Linked DNA regions of Homo sapiens: all the other regions are linked to region 3. The links come from fine-mapping of genetic effects on gene expression. A gene starts in region 3. Each other region holds a variant in brackets. All regions are shown on one strand. Distances are from middle to middle.

Region 1 (5,227 bases), 66 kb before region 3:
AAAAAAAAGAAAGATTATCAGAAAGTAGACTAAACAGCTTCCAGGTACAAGTGTAAGCAGATTTCTCTCGTTGTTACACTGACTCCCTTGCTGGGCCTGGGCCATAGGGACTGAGCAATCACAAAAGGTTATACAAGGCCCCAAATTATATTTGGTAGAGGTTATTTAGAGAATGAACTCTTCAAATCCTAATAATCACTACGAGAAGAAATAATGATCCCCTAAAAGAAACAAGAGGTGAAAACCAAGTAAGATAAAGTACCAAGGTTTTAAAAAAAAACCGAACCTCTTCCATTGTTTCCTCAATCTGAGCAGAAACAGGTTCAGGAGATCTGAGACCAACAGGTACAAATACTGGAGCTTTGTTTACTTCTTCGGGAGCAAGATGATAGCTTTCTTCCTCATAGTCAGACTCAAAATCGTCAGCATCATCATCTTCTTCCTGGGAAGCCCGAAGAGTCACCAGCATGGCCTTGGAAGCTCTAGGTTCCTTCTTAGAGGTCTTACCCCGAACTCGTTTTGATCCACGACCTCTGGTGACATTTGGTTTGAACTTTTTATGACTTCTCCTTTCACCACGATTTCTCTCATACTCAGATGTAGAAGAGATAGTTGTTTTCCCATCCAGGGCAATTTTAGAGTAACTTGTTTCGTTTAACGGTTGTGGACAGCTAGATATTTAATCAAAACAACAATAAGGTCATATGCATGCAAGGATAATTTTAATGAAAACCAAACTTTTAGAGTGAAATTCCAGTTCCAGTCATTAAAATGAAAATTCCCACCACCCATTCTTTTAAAATCTTATGCTGTGAAAATAAAAAAGGAATTAACTACTAGTTTCTCACTCAGAGTTAATTCTTAGTTATCTACCTACAAATTTTTCATAGTAAGTTTTTAATTCTGGACCATTCTTTCCTGTAATATGAAAGTGAAGATAAAATAAACACAAAACTGAAAATTATTAGAAGAAAAAGGGATAAAAGACACAGAACCGGCTGGGCGCAGTAGCTCACGCCTCTACTCCCAGCACTTTGGGAGGACGAGGCAGGCAGATCACTTGAGGTCAGGAGTTCAAGACCAGCCTGGCCAACATGGTGAAACCTGATCTCCACTAAAAATACAAAAATTAGCTGGGCACGGTGGTGCACGCCTGTAATCCCAGCTACTCGGGAGGATGAGGCAGGAGAATCACTTGTACCTGGGAGGTGGAGGTTGCAGTGAGCCGAGTCACGCAATTGTACTCCAGCCTGCGCGAGAAGAGTGAAACTGTCTCAAAAACAAAAAAAGACACAGGACCAATAAATACAGAATATGAGATCAAATGTGGTATTAGTTTATCCTACTGGGTAAACAGATAGGTTAAAAGAAAAAGGAGGCAGCAGAAATCCACTAGAGCAGTGCTGGTTTCTAGAACTTAAGTTTCTTTCCATTTTCTTTGAAAACTATAGAAGTAGGGTATTCTTTATTTGTGTTTGTGACTCCATTTGAATGAGCACCTTAATTACTTAGCTAATACATACATACTCCTCTTTGGTCAAGTTTCTACCCATGTCTAATGGACTCAACACCCAAAAATTTTGTTCTACCAGTAAGTTAAGGTAAAAGTTAAGTGATTTTTATTTCTTATTGTGAAACATTTTGTTAAATAAAATGTTACCTTGTTAGTTTATTGAGATATTGCTCTTCAACAACTGAAGATGGTGAATTATCTCCTACAGTTTCCTCTCCAACCCTTCTTGATGGTCCAACTTCTTCTAATTCCGCATCTATTTTTGCCAAAGCAGACTCTTTGGAACCTACACAATCTTTTCTTGCTGAAACCTCCAGAGATGTCAGAAGCTCAGCTTTTTCCTTAAATTTAAGAAGAAATTAGCTAGTATTACTACAGAAACAATCTCTATGTTAATTTGGTTTGGTAGTTTGGCCTAAACCTCTAAGTTTACACATATCTACAAGCAGTTGGTTGCTCATCTTTTACAACACTAGAAAGTCACTTTTCATGAAAATGGTTACAGTACAGAAGTCAAAACTGTATTTTACTCATGCTCTTCATGATCTTGACAAAACAGACCTCATTGAGAAAAAAAATTTTTTTTTTTTTTTTGCCCAAACTTACTTTTAGAAGGAGCTGGGTGTTGGAAGCTCCTTTCTGCAGCAAATGATCTTCTGGCTTGCCTTCCTTGCTCTGATCTGTTGTGACTTTTTCTAAAACTGGTTCCTCTTTCTTACTGTGTGCTCTTCCCAAATTTGGCTTAGCCTTTTGGAATTTCCTTCTTGTCATTTGTGCTGAACTAGGAACATACGGTTTATTTTCATGTCTAGAATGAAGTATGAATCATGTTGAAGAACAAAAATCAGAATTTCTTGTTGATATAACAGCTGTTACATCAAACAATTTTGGATACAAATCAATTCTATGTTCAAAGGACTATATATAAATTGGCAATAAAATCAAGCATGTAAAATGAAACCACACATTGCTGATATGAAAAGAACTTATAAAGCATTTATAGCTTCCATTTTCTATAGAGCCTGAAAAAGTTTTACAATAATATTAATCTTTTTAAACTTTCATTTATTCATTCTATTATATGATTTCATGCTACTTTAATTTTCAGAGAAATCACAGGATACCAAAAAAAAAAAGGCAAGTAGCTGAAGATGGATTTCATAATGGCACTTTAAACACATGCCTTCAACTGGGCCCCCAAAGCATGAACAAATATATGACAGTTATAACCAACTCGATACTTCTAGTTCTAAAGTAGACTTGAAGGGTAGAGTCTATTCTCCTAACA[G/C]ATGCCTGAACTCTCACTAAAAAGGGTTTACTGACAACCAATGTCATAAGGTTCTCAATATAATCCGTCTGTATCTGCCAAATAACAAAAAGACGTTTTAGCATTCAAGAGAGTAGCCAGAGCTCCCAAGGTAACCTGAATAGCTATCTAATGGTTTCCTGGACAATATTTTAGCAACTGGCAAAGATCTGAATTAGGAAGCTTAAAAACTAATAGAGACCAGGCACGGTGGCTCACGCCTGTAATCCCAGCACTTTGGGACGCCGAGGTGGGCGGATCACCTGAGGTCGGGAGTTTGAGACCAGCCTAACCAACATGGAAAAACCCCATCTCTACCAAAAATAAAAAATTAGCTGGGCATGGTCGTGCATGCCTGAAGTCCCAGCTACTCGGGAGGCTGAGGCAAGAGAATCACTTGAACCTGGGAGGTGGAGGTTACAGTGAGGCGAAGTTGCACCACTGCACTCCAGCCTGGGCAACAAGAGCAAAACTCTGTCTCCAAAAAAAAAAAAAAAAACTAATATAAACCTGAATATTTATAAAGAATAACTGGATATATAAGTACCTATCTTGAGTTCTCTGAAAGATCTGCATTAAAAACTAATCTTTTTTTTTTTTTTTGAGACGGAGTTTCGCTCTTGTCACCCAGGCTGGAGTGCAATGGTGCGATCTCGGCTCACTGTAACCTCCGCCTCCAGGTTCAAGCGATTCTCCTGCCTCAGTCTCTCAAGTAGCTGGGATTACAGGCATGCGCCACCACGGCTGGCTAATTTTGTATTTTTAGTAGAGATGGGGTTTCTCTATGTTGGTCAGGCTGGTCTCAAACTCCCGAACTCAGGTGATTCGCCCGCCTTGGTTTCCCAGAGCGCTGGGATTACAGGTGTGAGCCACCATGCCCGGCCTTCAATGCACCCTTTCAATGAAGCTTTCTCTGGTCACTGCTGATTAAAAAGTGAATCCCCAGTCACAACACTCCCTACTCAAAACTTTATTTTTCTCTACTGATTTATCACTTATTTATTCAACTTATTTCTCATTTATAATCTGTTTCTCAATTAGAATATAAACTCCACAGTGACAGCATTTTTTTCTTCATTTATTCCTACATCATCAGCACTTAGAACAATGCCTGGCACACAGCAGACACTAAAATGTTTGTGGAATAAATGAGTATATAAGGTTATTTTCAGTGGTAAAATTCTATAATTCTTTGAGATCAAAAAGGGATTATACATAGAAAATAATCCCATAATTAGTAATTAGGAGAAGTGAATGATGTAAACAAATTCATCTGTAATGTTTCCTAGACATTATCAGAGTTAAATTGCTCTGAGATCAATCATCAACCTAATCCAATATAGCATTTGTAATATAAGTCTAATGCATTTTAGTAAAAAACATTTCAATAAAATATCCAGTTTTAAAAACTGAAAAAATGGCTAAGGGAACCTAAAATTAATGTGAAGTAAAAATTGGCCTTAATCTTAAAATAAAAGCAATATGGAAAGACTTTTCAATGCATAGCACAGGGAACAATCAACAAAGTGAAGAGACAACCTACAGAATGGGAGAAAAAATTCCCAACTATCCATCTCACAAAAGTTAATAACCAGAATATATAAGGAACAAAAACAACTCAATAGCAAAAAAACAAATAATCTGATTAAAGAATAGGCAAAAGAGAACAGACAGTTCTCAAAAGACATACAAATGGCCAACAGGTGTCTGACAAAATGTTCAACATCATTAATCATCACGGAAACGCAAATCAAAACTGCACTGAGATATCCTACTGCCGTTAAAATGGCTACTGTTAAAAAGACAAAAAATTACAAATACTGGTCAGGATGTGGAGAAATGGGAAAACTCATAGGCTGTTCGTGGGAATATAAAGTAGGAATGCCATTATGGAAAAAAGTATGAAAGTTCCTCAAAAAACTAAAAATAGAACTACCATTTGATTGAGCCATCCTACTGCCAGGTGTATGTCCAAAAGAAAGGAAATCACTGTATCAAAGAGATATCTGAACTCTCATGTTTACTGCAGTGGTATTCACAATAGCCAACACATAATATCAACCTAAGTGTCCAGCAACAAATGAATAAAGAAAGTGAGAAAGTGTGGTATATATACACAATGGAATATTATTTAACCATAAAAAAGAATGAAATCCTGTCATTCACAGTGACATAGATGGAACTAGAGGTCATTATGTTAGGTGAAATAAGCCAGGCACAGAAAGACAAATATTGCTGGTTCTCACTCATATGTAGCAGCTTAAAAAGTGGATCTCATGGAGGTAGGGATTAGAATGGTGCTCACCAGAGGCTAGGAAGGCAAGAGGGAAGGGAGTAATGAGAAGCTGGTTAGTGTGTATAAAAATACAGTTAGATAGAAGGAATAAGTTCTGGTATTCAGTAGTACA
Region 2 (5,227 bases), 360 kb before region 3:
ATATTGGTTGCCTGATCTCTGGAATAAGAGCCCTGTAATAGTTTTTAAGCTATTGTCTCTCAGGTTCAACCCACCCCTACCTCTTCTGCCTCCCACACACACACTTCTATGTTCTGCTTTGTGATGCTGGGGCTGCGGCTCGGAAAGCCACATTTCTGCTTTGCCAGCTGGCTCTACATTCAGCTCTTCCAATACGGGAAACTTGAGGAATAAGAAGACGTGTACTTCGTGTTCTTGTCACAGCACCTCAGTCTCACTGCTCCCCTCGGCATTTGCAGTCACAGCATGCATTCAGTTTGCAGGATTTCCAACACTGGCAGGACCAGTCTCACCATGGTCCCCAGAAACACCAGCACAGCTGACCAGGACCTTTTCCTCAGAGTTCTGGGTCACAGCCCCAGGGGATGCCTCCTCTGAGCTCAGAGTCATCAACATAAGCTGAGCAGTGGTCCCCTTTCAGAGGTCTGAGATTCAGCTTCTACTGCAAGCTTTTACCTATCAATAATTCCAACTTCTTCCCTTGTTCCCCCAGGTGTAAGCGTGGTAGCTGAGATATCTTAGTGTTCTCTCTTTGCCTTTCCAGTTTTTAAATAACTACTTAATAATTCCTTACATTAAGTCCTTTCTGTTAAAATAGCATGTGTGGTGTCTCTTCACTGAGGTATTATAGGAAAAGCCTGGTGAAAACCTTGAAATTGCCCCCCTCTGCCCTGACAAGAAAATGAGAAGCAATGCTTCATCACAGGAAGAATGGCAGAGATTGGGGCTACCCTCAAAGACATAAAGGAGGCTAGGATGGCAGTCCCTTCGTATCCCCATTTAGTGTACCAGTCTGTCTTCTAGAAAAAGCCAGTTGGGTCATGCATTTTATGGTGGACTATCATGACCAAGTATTAACCCCAACCACAACTGCTGTTCCAGATGCAGTATTTTTACTACAGCAGATCAACATGGTCTCTGGTACTTGGTGTAACACTACTAAATTGGAAAATGCATTCTCTTCAATCCCTTCTAGAAAGGAGCATCAAAAGCAGTTTGCTGTCACTTAGAACAGACAGATACATACATTCACTGTCATGCCCTCATGGCTAGATTGCAATAAAGCTTAACGGGATTGGGATCATCGGGATATTCTATAGGAAATCTCAAGGTTTCACTGTGCTGGCAACATCATTTAATTGTGCCTGGGGGACAGGAATGGTAAGCATTCTGGTCAGGTATATCTGGATCAGAGAGTGGAAGAGGAAGCTTACACACAATCAAGGCTTTGCTGCGGTCAATAAAGCTTTCAGGGGCCCCGTGGTTTGAGACATGCCAGGTCACTCCTCCAAGGGGCGAACAAATGTGTGCACTTTCTACCTCCTACCACTAAGAAAGTGGTACAATGCCCAGTGGACCTCTTCAGATTTGGGAGACCATATCCACCACACTTGTGAATACTGCTTCAACTCATTTAGTAGTGAGTCAGAACACTTCTGGTTTTGAGTGGGTATTATGGGTCAAATGCGTCCCTGCAAAATGTATCCGTCAAAACCCTAACCTCCAGTACCTCAGAATGTGAGTATATTTGGAGATAGGGCCTTTAAGAGATGAATTAGTTAAAATAAGTTCATTAAAATGAGTTCTAATCCAGTCTGACTAGTGTTCTTATAAGAAGAGGAAACCTGGACACACAAGGAAGTGCCAAGAAGCTGACGCACAGAGGAAAGTCCCCGAGAGGGCACAGCAAGAAGGCGGGCCATCTGCAAGCCAGGGAGAGGCCTCCAAAGAGACCAGACCTGCTGACACCTAGACCTCAGACCGTCCAGCCTCCAGAACTGGACAGGTTTTTGCTGTTTAAGCCACCCAGTGTGTGGTATTTTGTTATGGCACCCCAAGCAAACTAATAGAGTAGGCATGGAGCAAGTGAGGGCACTGGAACTGGTCCAGGTTGTGGCACAAGTAACTCTAGTGTTTAGCTCTGTGACCCAGAAGATTCCATGCTGCTAGACTCACTAGAATCTTTGACAAGCCTCAATGGGAGAACCACAATGAGAGCCCCAGAGGTCTAGAGCAAGTCCATGACACCCACAAAAGACAACTCTTCATTCAGAAAGCAGCTCCTGAGTGCTGCTGTGGCCATGAAATGACTGAGTACCTGAGCTTGGGACATCAAGTGACTGTGCAACCAGCACTGCCTTCTATGGCATGGATAATATCAGACCTGCCAGGACATAGGATTGCATCGAAAAAAAAAAATCCCTCCTAATCTGGGACTTAGACCTCTCAGAGAAAAAGGTCTGCGTTATTCCATAAGGTAAGCAATCTAAACCAGTAGAAATGCTGGCCAAGGGGCTGGAGGGTCTACAAAGGGTAGAATAGAAGAGAGCTGATCAATGAACATCGTGGGAAAGACTGCAGCAGTAGACAGTGAGATCCTGGCCCACTAATGCTCCTGTTGTCTTTTTTTTTTTTTTTTAATGTTTATTTGTGACCTTGAAGAAGCAGTGATAGGATAGAGTAAGCCTAACACAGGACACAGGTGGATCTGAGTGGAACAAGGTCTTGACTGCAGTTGACACTGTCAGTGCCCTGCCCAGAGCCCCTCACCCTTAACACTGCAGAGCACACTAACCTTCTACCTGTCAGCGCCTAGATTCATTTGCCTGGGGGTTTCCTCTGACCTACAGAGCTACTCTGCTCCTGTGCACAGCAGGCCAGATGTGCCAGGGAAATTACACCGTGGCCCCAGGAGCAG[C/T]CTTTGATTAATAACTGATGGCAACTGGAGTATAAATATCCCAGTTCCCTCACTTCCTAGGTGGGATAACTCCAAGGCCCATGTTTTAGACGACCACTCAGTGTTCCTCAGAGAGATTAAACTCTGATTACCTTAGCAGTAACTTGTTTTGTAAGAACCATTATTTGCTGCCCTCTCCCCCTGGGTCATTTCTTCCCTGCCACACCTTTTGTGATCCTTCCTCCATCCCCCACCTCACAAAAAAGTGATTGGCTTTACTGTCTCAATGTCTGCTGCTGGGAAAACCCAAACCAAGGTAAGACATTACTCCTACAAAAATACAGACAGTCTCTCTCTCTCTCTCTCTCTCCCAAGTCTCACTCCCACCACCCAGACTGGAGCGCAATGATGTGATCTCGGCTCACTACAGCCCCGGCTCAGGTGATCCTCCCACCTCAGCCCCCAAGTAGCTGGGACTACGGGCATGTGCCACCACACCCAGCTAATTTTTTTGTATTTTTAGTAGAGATGGGGTCTCCCATGCTGGGAGACCTTAACCTTGCCCAGGGTGTTCTCAAATTCCTGGACTCAAGGGATCCGTCCACCTTGGCCTCCCAAAGTGCTGGGATTACAGGTGTGAGCCATCATGCGTGGCCCAAAATATAAACAATCTCTAATCAACAACACACTCCTAATTCCTCCCACTGTTGTCTGGGATTGCTCCCTCTTATACATGCAGAAAAATGAGGTAATGGGCTGCGGAAGTGATGGGAAAAGAGTACTTGGCCACTTAATGGGTCAACACCTGCAAGATAAGGCAGCTACACTATATTCTGATGGACACAAACCTTGGGTTTCTGCCTGAGGGAGTAAAGAACAGAGAAGGTCTAGACTCTACATTTTTCCTGTGTCACTCTTGTGTGACCTAAAACCTGGGTGTGCCATAAGGCATTCCTCAAATCTACTCCATTTGTCTCTCACATGATGAGCAGAGATTCCTCCAAAAATCTGGCATGTGTCATCCATTTTTATTCTTTTTAAGGCAGAATTTCCCTATTTTCTCTGTCTTCATTTTCTGTGCTATTGTGATACTTTAATGAAAGTTGAATGAGATTGCATGGTGGACGACGCTGGCCATATGATATTTTGATCTGAACAACTGCAGTATTCCATCTCATGAAGTGGTGAAATGATAAAATGGAAGATGAAGTTCCAGAGGTTCATGAAGACCTTCTTCCTGGAATAAGGCATTCTTTCCAAATAGAGCCACAGTAGAGATGTACTGTCAACAAGAATATGCTACATTGTGTAAAGTACTGGAAATTCAAGTCCTCATTAGCATGGTTCTTCAATGATTCCTAAGAACATTATTCATGAGCTTGGGGAGACATAGAAAAAGAGATAAAAACAGAGTAAGCGCACGCATGAGAGGGAGAGAGAAGAAAAAGAGAATGGTGGGGTCTACATTTCAAAGAGGATGTAAGTCATATTTATTTCCCCAGAGACCTAATAAACTGGTCATTCCATAATGCTTAGAATACTTTGAGAAGAATTAAGAAACAATTTCATTTTATAGTCAGCATTCCCAACTATTTCATTCCACAAGTGAAATGTTAACGGGCAAACAATCACAATGCTGCAATAAATTCTGGAAGCATAGGGGTTATTTTCCTTTTGGGCTGGGTCATGATTTGAGTGATTTTTCACTGGTTAAGTTCCACTATTATCTGGGTGACACCTTTTGTAATAATAACCTTGCTTTGCTCCACATCTTGTCATATTTATCTTTCCTGACCAGCTGCCATTCACACTCTGACCCTGTGATAGTAGCTAGTCTGCCCTGACCTTTGCAGCTGGGAAACTCAAAGGGGCTAATGAGCTACCAGTTCACACCTATCCTAATTAGCTATCTTTAACAGCTGTAGGAAAGAGTCAGTTCTCTGTGATCTTTCTATTATAAAAATTGAGAGCAAGTTAATCTAAACTGGAAGCGGAAAAAAATTCACCTTGGAAAATCCAAGGAGCTTCTCAGTCAAACTGAAATCCCATTTTAGCACTTCCAAAGTCTCCCAGTGTGACTCCCAACACTTACTCTGGAGCTGATGATATTGGTTTAAAGATTCAAGCACATATTCAGTATGCTGTACCTAAAAAGTACTAGGAAGTGAGGATCATGAGACCATATAAATGAACCATGGCTAGCAAATAAGATGCATTACACATTTTAATATAAAACATTTGAGTCACCCAGATACCTAATTTCCCTGAATCCTCCATTTAATACTCTCTAGGGATGTGCTTGAAATCACATCACATCTTATTCAGTAACAAAAATGACATAAAATAGTGTTTATTTGACTTTAACGCACATTAAGATTACCTAGAGAGGTAATCTCAAGCCCAGCCTGAGACTCTTTTTCTGATGGCAGGGGTGGGACCTGAGAATCTGCATTTAAAATAAATATGGACCAAGTTTTTCCTGAATTCTGGCTTTCAAAGTTCAAATGAGAG
Region 3 (5,227 bases):
CTAATTTGAATTACTAAGTAACAAAGTAATAATTTATAATTAATTTCTATATAAAATTTAAAAAAATTTTAATTCACTCTGACATTTTAAACTGGTCTAAACTACCGGCATTTTACTTTACTTATCAACCCGAGGTCAGTCAAATCAAATATGCAAAACTCCAAACCTCTGAAATATCTGTATTGCAGTATTTGAAGAAAAACATTTAGTTACAGTAGCCAAACCCAATTCCCTTTGAGGCAGAAATCATTTATCTTTTGTCAGGTACAACTCTACTTATACAGCCATCAGAATAAACTTCAGTCAAAAAAAGTACTCAGTCACCCCAAATTGCATATTAGGTATGGTATACCTCAGATATAAGTATTTCAGGAATGGTCTATAAATGCAACTTAAGTCAAGAAAAGAGGTGGTATAAGTCAATAATTAAAAACAGTCTACTTTTTTCCTATTTTATAATTACTTATAAAAAATTAGAAAATGCCTTAACTTATAGAATAACCTTTCCAGGAAGACTTCAATTTAAATTCGTATCTTAGCTGTTATGGATACATGCATTATCTGCATTTCACCCAATTATGTTGAATGCATAATGACAGAATATATATCCTATAGAGTTTTACAACTAGCAAAGACCCACAAAAAAATAAAAAGAGGCTGGGCACGGTGGCTCACACCTGTAACCCCAGCACTTTGGGCTGAGGCAGGTGGATCACTTGAGGTCAGGAGTTCGAGTCCAGCCTGGCCAACATGGTGAAACCCTGTCTCTACTGAAAATACAAAAATTAGTTGGGCGTGGTGGGGCACGCCTGTAGTCCCAGATACTTGGGAGCCTGAGACAGGAGAATTGCAAGAACCCGGGAGGTGGAGGTTGCAGTGAGCCGTACCACTGCACTTCAGCCTGGGCGACAGAGCAAGACTCCATCTAAAAAAAAAACTAATTAAAAAAAAAAAAAAAAACCACTTTCCCAGAGTCAGTAATGGCAAAAAAAGTGACTAAAAAACAAATTATATTCCCCAAACGTAAATGTCAACTCAAAAAAAAAAATTAAATATCCTTGACCATAAATATCTCAAAACTACAATCTTTGGGCAATTTATTAAATTATCAACCATCACGCACTCACACATAATTAACGAAATCTCTGAGAACTTTATTAATGTAACAGCGACTAGTATCGGTATCTCCTTTCTGTGTAGAAATTTTGAAACAGATTCATGTAATAAACTTGGAAATTACTAACCATCACTGAACTATCAACGTAACACCATACACTCAGCACCAGTTCAGGCCAATAGAGGAAGATGTTCCAAAAATAAATAAATGTTTCACCTTCCTATCACAGCATAAACAGAATTTGTACTATCTCACTTCACTTAACAAGGCTGTTTACTGATTTCCTCATATATATAGAAACAGAGACCATCTTAGCCTAACATGTCTTAAATTTACTCCATCACCTTTCTAAAAAACTAGTAACTTTTTGCGGGCAACTATTCTGCTATATCCCCTGCAAGGTAGTTAATATGAATTATCTCCAATCTGCACCAAAACGCTCCAAGTAGGCAATATTATTCCCATTTTGCAGATGAGCAAATTCTGCCTGAGAAAAGTTTACCTGTAGACTAAAAGAGTCCTGAATCCAAATATGATACATGACGCTAAAGCCATGCTTCTCTATTCAGGAAACACGGTCACCATAGTTAAAGAGGCACACTTCAATTAAGTGACCAGAACTCTTACTCACTGACATAAATCGGTAAAGCCAAAGCAATACTTATCTTCTCCTTTAAAAAATAAATATTTTATAAATTGAAAGACAAAAACACTTCCCTGCAAAGCACTCCAGAAGGATGAAAACTATAGTGACCTAAATTCTCAAATGAATAGTGTGGATATTCTTCACTTCAGGACTGCCATACCCCGATTCTCCCTACCACCACTTGAAGACATGGTCTCCTCTCGGAGAATCTATAGACCGTGACAAAATCCACACAAGCCACACCCTGCAGGTCAGACAACTAAACTGCAGTTTGGAGTGGTTTCATCAAGCCTCAACTGAAAGGCTTACTGCAAACGAGAGCGGACTCCTGTGATAAAATTCATTTGCTCAGCTTCCAGGTGACATGCCCGGAGAGGCGGGACAAATGAAAATTCTTCCCTCTGCAACCTCTTACCTGCTCCTAGGAGCCTTTTCTTGGGGCTCCGCTCCACCGAAATCGACTGTGGGCACATCTGTGGGCTCCGCGGGCTTGGAAGCAGAGTCCGTGGCAGGATCCGGCGGCCTGGGAGACTCCCGTCCACGCTGGGGATTGGAAGCTGTGGAGCCCCTGGCGCCTACACCAGGCCTGACATTCGGCTTCACGCTAAGGCGTGCCCTGCGGAACATGGCGGAGGCAGGGGGCCCGGGGAGGCAGCCTCACGGCCGCTCACAGCCCCGAGCCCCGGCGGCTGCCCGGAAAGGGGATTAGGAACTACGCCCTCCCCACAAAGCCACACCACCAGCTCAGGGGGCAGCTACCGTAGTTTCACTGCCCCGCCGCCGCCTCCTCCTCTCTCCCGCCGCCGCCGCTTTTTCATGACCCTGCCACACACCGATGGCTAAATTTCACCCTCCTCCCAGCATCCCCGCGCTCACAGGACGCCGCAACTGATTGCGCCATCAGCCAGCGCCGCAGAATGACGTCAGACGCACAGCACTGGGAGCCATGGTAACTACCAAGCTACTGAGACTGGGTTACCTGCGGACCAGAAATTGAGATGCAGAGATATTTGCTCTTTCTTCTCCAGGAGTCCTTAGGAGTAGTTGAAAAGAGGAACAGAAGAAAGTCCACTTCTCTGCTCAAACCTTTACTGGAACTATTAAAATCGCTGGCCGATTTTGTCTTTTGAAGATCCTGAAGGGTTTAGAAATTCTAAATTGAGTAGACATAGATTAAAAATGCTGGTGTGAAGAAACTGATAATAGTTACCTCCCAGGAGAGGAATGTGTTTCTGGAAAACACGTCGTGGTAGGAAGACCATTTACCGTACGCCTTTGTGTACTTTTTTGTTTTTGTCCTTTGAGACAGGGTCTTGCTCTGTCGCCTAGGCTGGAGTGTGCAGTTGCGCGATCTTGGCTCACTGCAGCCTCCACCTCTCGGGCTCAGGCGATCCTCCCGTCACAGCCTCCCAAGTTGCTGGGACCACAGGCACGCGCCACGACACCCGGCTAATTTTTTTTTTCTCGTATATTTAGTAGAGACGGGGTTCATCATGTTGCTTAGGCTGATCTTGAACTCCTAGGCTCAAGCGAGCCACCCATTTGGCCTCCCAAAGTGCTGGGATTACAGACGTGAGCCACCACGCCCAACCTCCTTGTGTACTTTTTAATATGAATGTATCACCCGAGATCGTACCACTACACTCCAGCCTGTTTAAAAATTATTATAGTTGAAACCTTGTAAATTATTGTGAGTGTTCTTAATCTGCTTCAGGAGGTAGCAGTAAACAAGACGTTCTGGATTTGGGAGGAGAAAATACAAAAAAGAAATGAACAAGATATTTTTAAAATGTATCAGGCCCGGCGTGGGTGCCTCATGCCTGTAATCCCAGCATTTTAGGAGGCTAAGGCAAGGCAGATTGCTTGAGGTCAGGAGTTCGAGACCAGCCTGGCCAACATGGTTAAACTCCATCTCTACTAAAAATACAAAAATGAGCCAGGCCTGGTGGTGCAAGCCTGTAATCCCAGCTATGGGAGGCTGAGACAGGAGAATGGCTTGAACCCTGGAGGTGGAGGCTGCCGGGAGCCAAGATGGCACCACTGCACTCTAGCCTAGGCAACAGAATGAGTGAGACTCTGTCTTAAAATAAATGAATTAATTAATTAATTGCAATAAAATAAAGTATATCAAATGTCATGAAATAAATTTAAGGGTTGAATGCCGGGTATGGCGAGGCACGCCTATAATCCCAGCTACTGTGGAGACTGAAGTGGGAGGATCTCTTGAGCCCAAGACTTCCAGACCAACCTGCTCAAAATATTGAGACCCCTAAAACAAATTACCTACATGCGGTGGCTGTGATGGCTCCCACCTCTAGCTCCAGCTACCTGGAAGGCTGAGGCAGGAGGTCCAGGCTGCAGTGAGCTATGATAGTGCCACTGCCCTCCAGCATGGGTGACAAAGTGAAACCTTGTCCTTAAAACAAAAATTTAATAATAAGAAGAAAAAAAAGAGAGAAATGTACAGGATGATGTGATAGAAAGTAATGGGAGGGAGGCTGGCAGTAGAGTGGCTAGGGAAGTCCTCTATGATGAGAGGAAAAATAGCCAGAGCTGAGGTTGGCCTTGGAGGTATTGGGCCAATGTTTGAACCAGTGATACAAATCCCCTGACTCATGGGAACACAAAGGCCTGACTTTCTTCTTAGAAGGAAAAGAAAATCCTACAAGAATATGGTGATACATTAATAACAAAAGGTCAAAGGAATAAAATTCTGAACTGACTGAAGAAATTGATCACCTAAAGGGAGAACAAAAAAGAGGCAAGTGCTTTTGAGAGTAGGAAGGCAAGACTGAAAGCAGAGAAGAGAAAACATATATCTCTAAGACTATGAAGAAAATGAAGGTCTGGAGGCCAGGCACAGCTCGTGCCTGTAATCCCAGCACTTTGGGAGGTTGAGGCAGGCGAATCACTTGAGCCTAGGAGTTTAAGACCAGCCTAGCCAACATGGTGAAACCTCATCTCTACCAAAATTACAAAAATTAGCTGAGCATGGTGGCTTCTGCCTGTAATCCCAGCTACTCAGGAGGCTGAGGTTGGAGGATTGCTTGAGCCCAGGAGGCGGAAGTTGCAGTGAGCCAAGATCACACCACAGCACTACAGCCTGGGTGACAAAGTGAGACCCTGTCTCAAAAAAAAAAAAAAAAAGAGAGAGAGAAAGAAAGGAAGGAAGGAAGGAAGAGAAAAGAGGAGGTCTGTGGATTCCGTGGGCTCCCTGCAATACTCTGGAAAAGGAACAGTATCTCAGTTTTATCTTCTTTATTTAAAGAAGCTCAAGAATTCGAGAGAATACCCTGCTAAAGATGTCTCAGGAATCTTGGAGCCACTGCCAGGTCTACACAGCTTTGAACAGCATATTCTGATACCAACTGAAGACACAGGGCCTTTCCCCAGATGGTCTTCTGTTCCACTTAAGAGACTAGGGCATTGTCCCAAGTTTTTACAGGTCAGAAAGTAAATAGTGA

Direction of the effects. Alleles are on the strand shown, and positions count from the first base shown. SD is a standard deviation of normalised expression in the study named. Not every link is listed here.
For the expression in subcutaneous fat of the gene that starts at base 2,617 in region 3, allele T in region 2 goes with a higher level than allele C (large effect, 0.82 SD a copy in FUSION).

Evidence for each region. PIP is the estimated chance that this variant, and not a neighbour inherited with it, causes the effect.
Region 1: its variant is the best candidate, but not a certain one, in a credible set for the expression of BDP1 in whole blood (INTERVAL, PIP 0.80).
Region 2: its variant is the best candidate, but not a certain one, in a credible set for the expression of BDP1 in subcutaneous fat (FUSION, PIP 0.61).

What each region holds. Positions count from the first base shown.
Region 1 is chr5:71,519,383-71,524,609 of GRCh38, reverse strand. BDP1 (BDP1 general transcription factor IIIB subunit) reads right to left here. Exons shown (of 39, transcript NM_018429.3): 23 at 2,120-2,321; 24 at 1,661-1,854; 25 at 287-671. Among named protein-coding and RNA genes, the nearest start is that of MCCC2, 65 kb to the left of the region's middle. The variant G/C (reference allele first, on the strand shown) is at 2,802.
Region 2 is chr5:71,813,009-71,818,235 of GRCh38, reverse strand. No RefSeq gene overlaps it. Among named protein-coding and RNA genes, the nearest start is that of CARTPT, 96 kb to the right of the region's middle. The variant C/T (reference allele first, on the strand shown) is at 2,738.
Region 3 is chr5:71,453,041-71,458,267 of GRCh38, reverse strand. It overlaps BDP1 (BDP1 general transcription factor IIIB subunit), which reads right to left and starts at 2,617. Exons shown (of 39, transcript NM_018429.3): 1 at 2,179-2,617. The coding sequence starts at 2,390. RefSeq lists enhancers at 1,830-2,755, 2,756-3,682.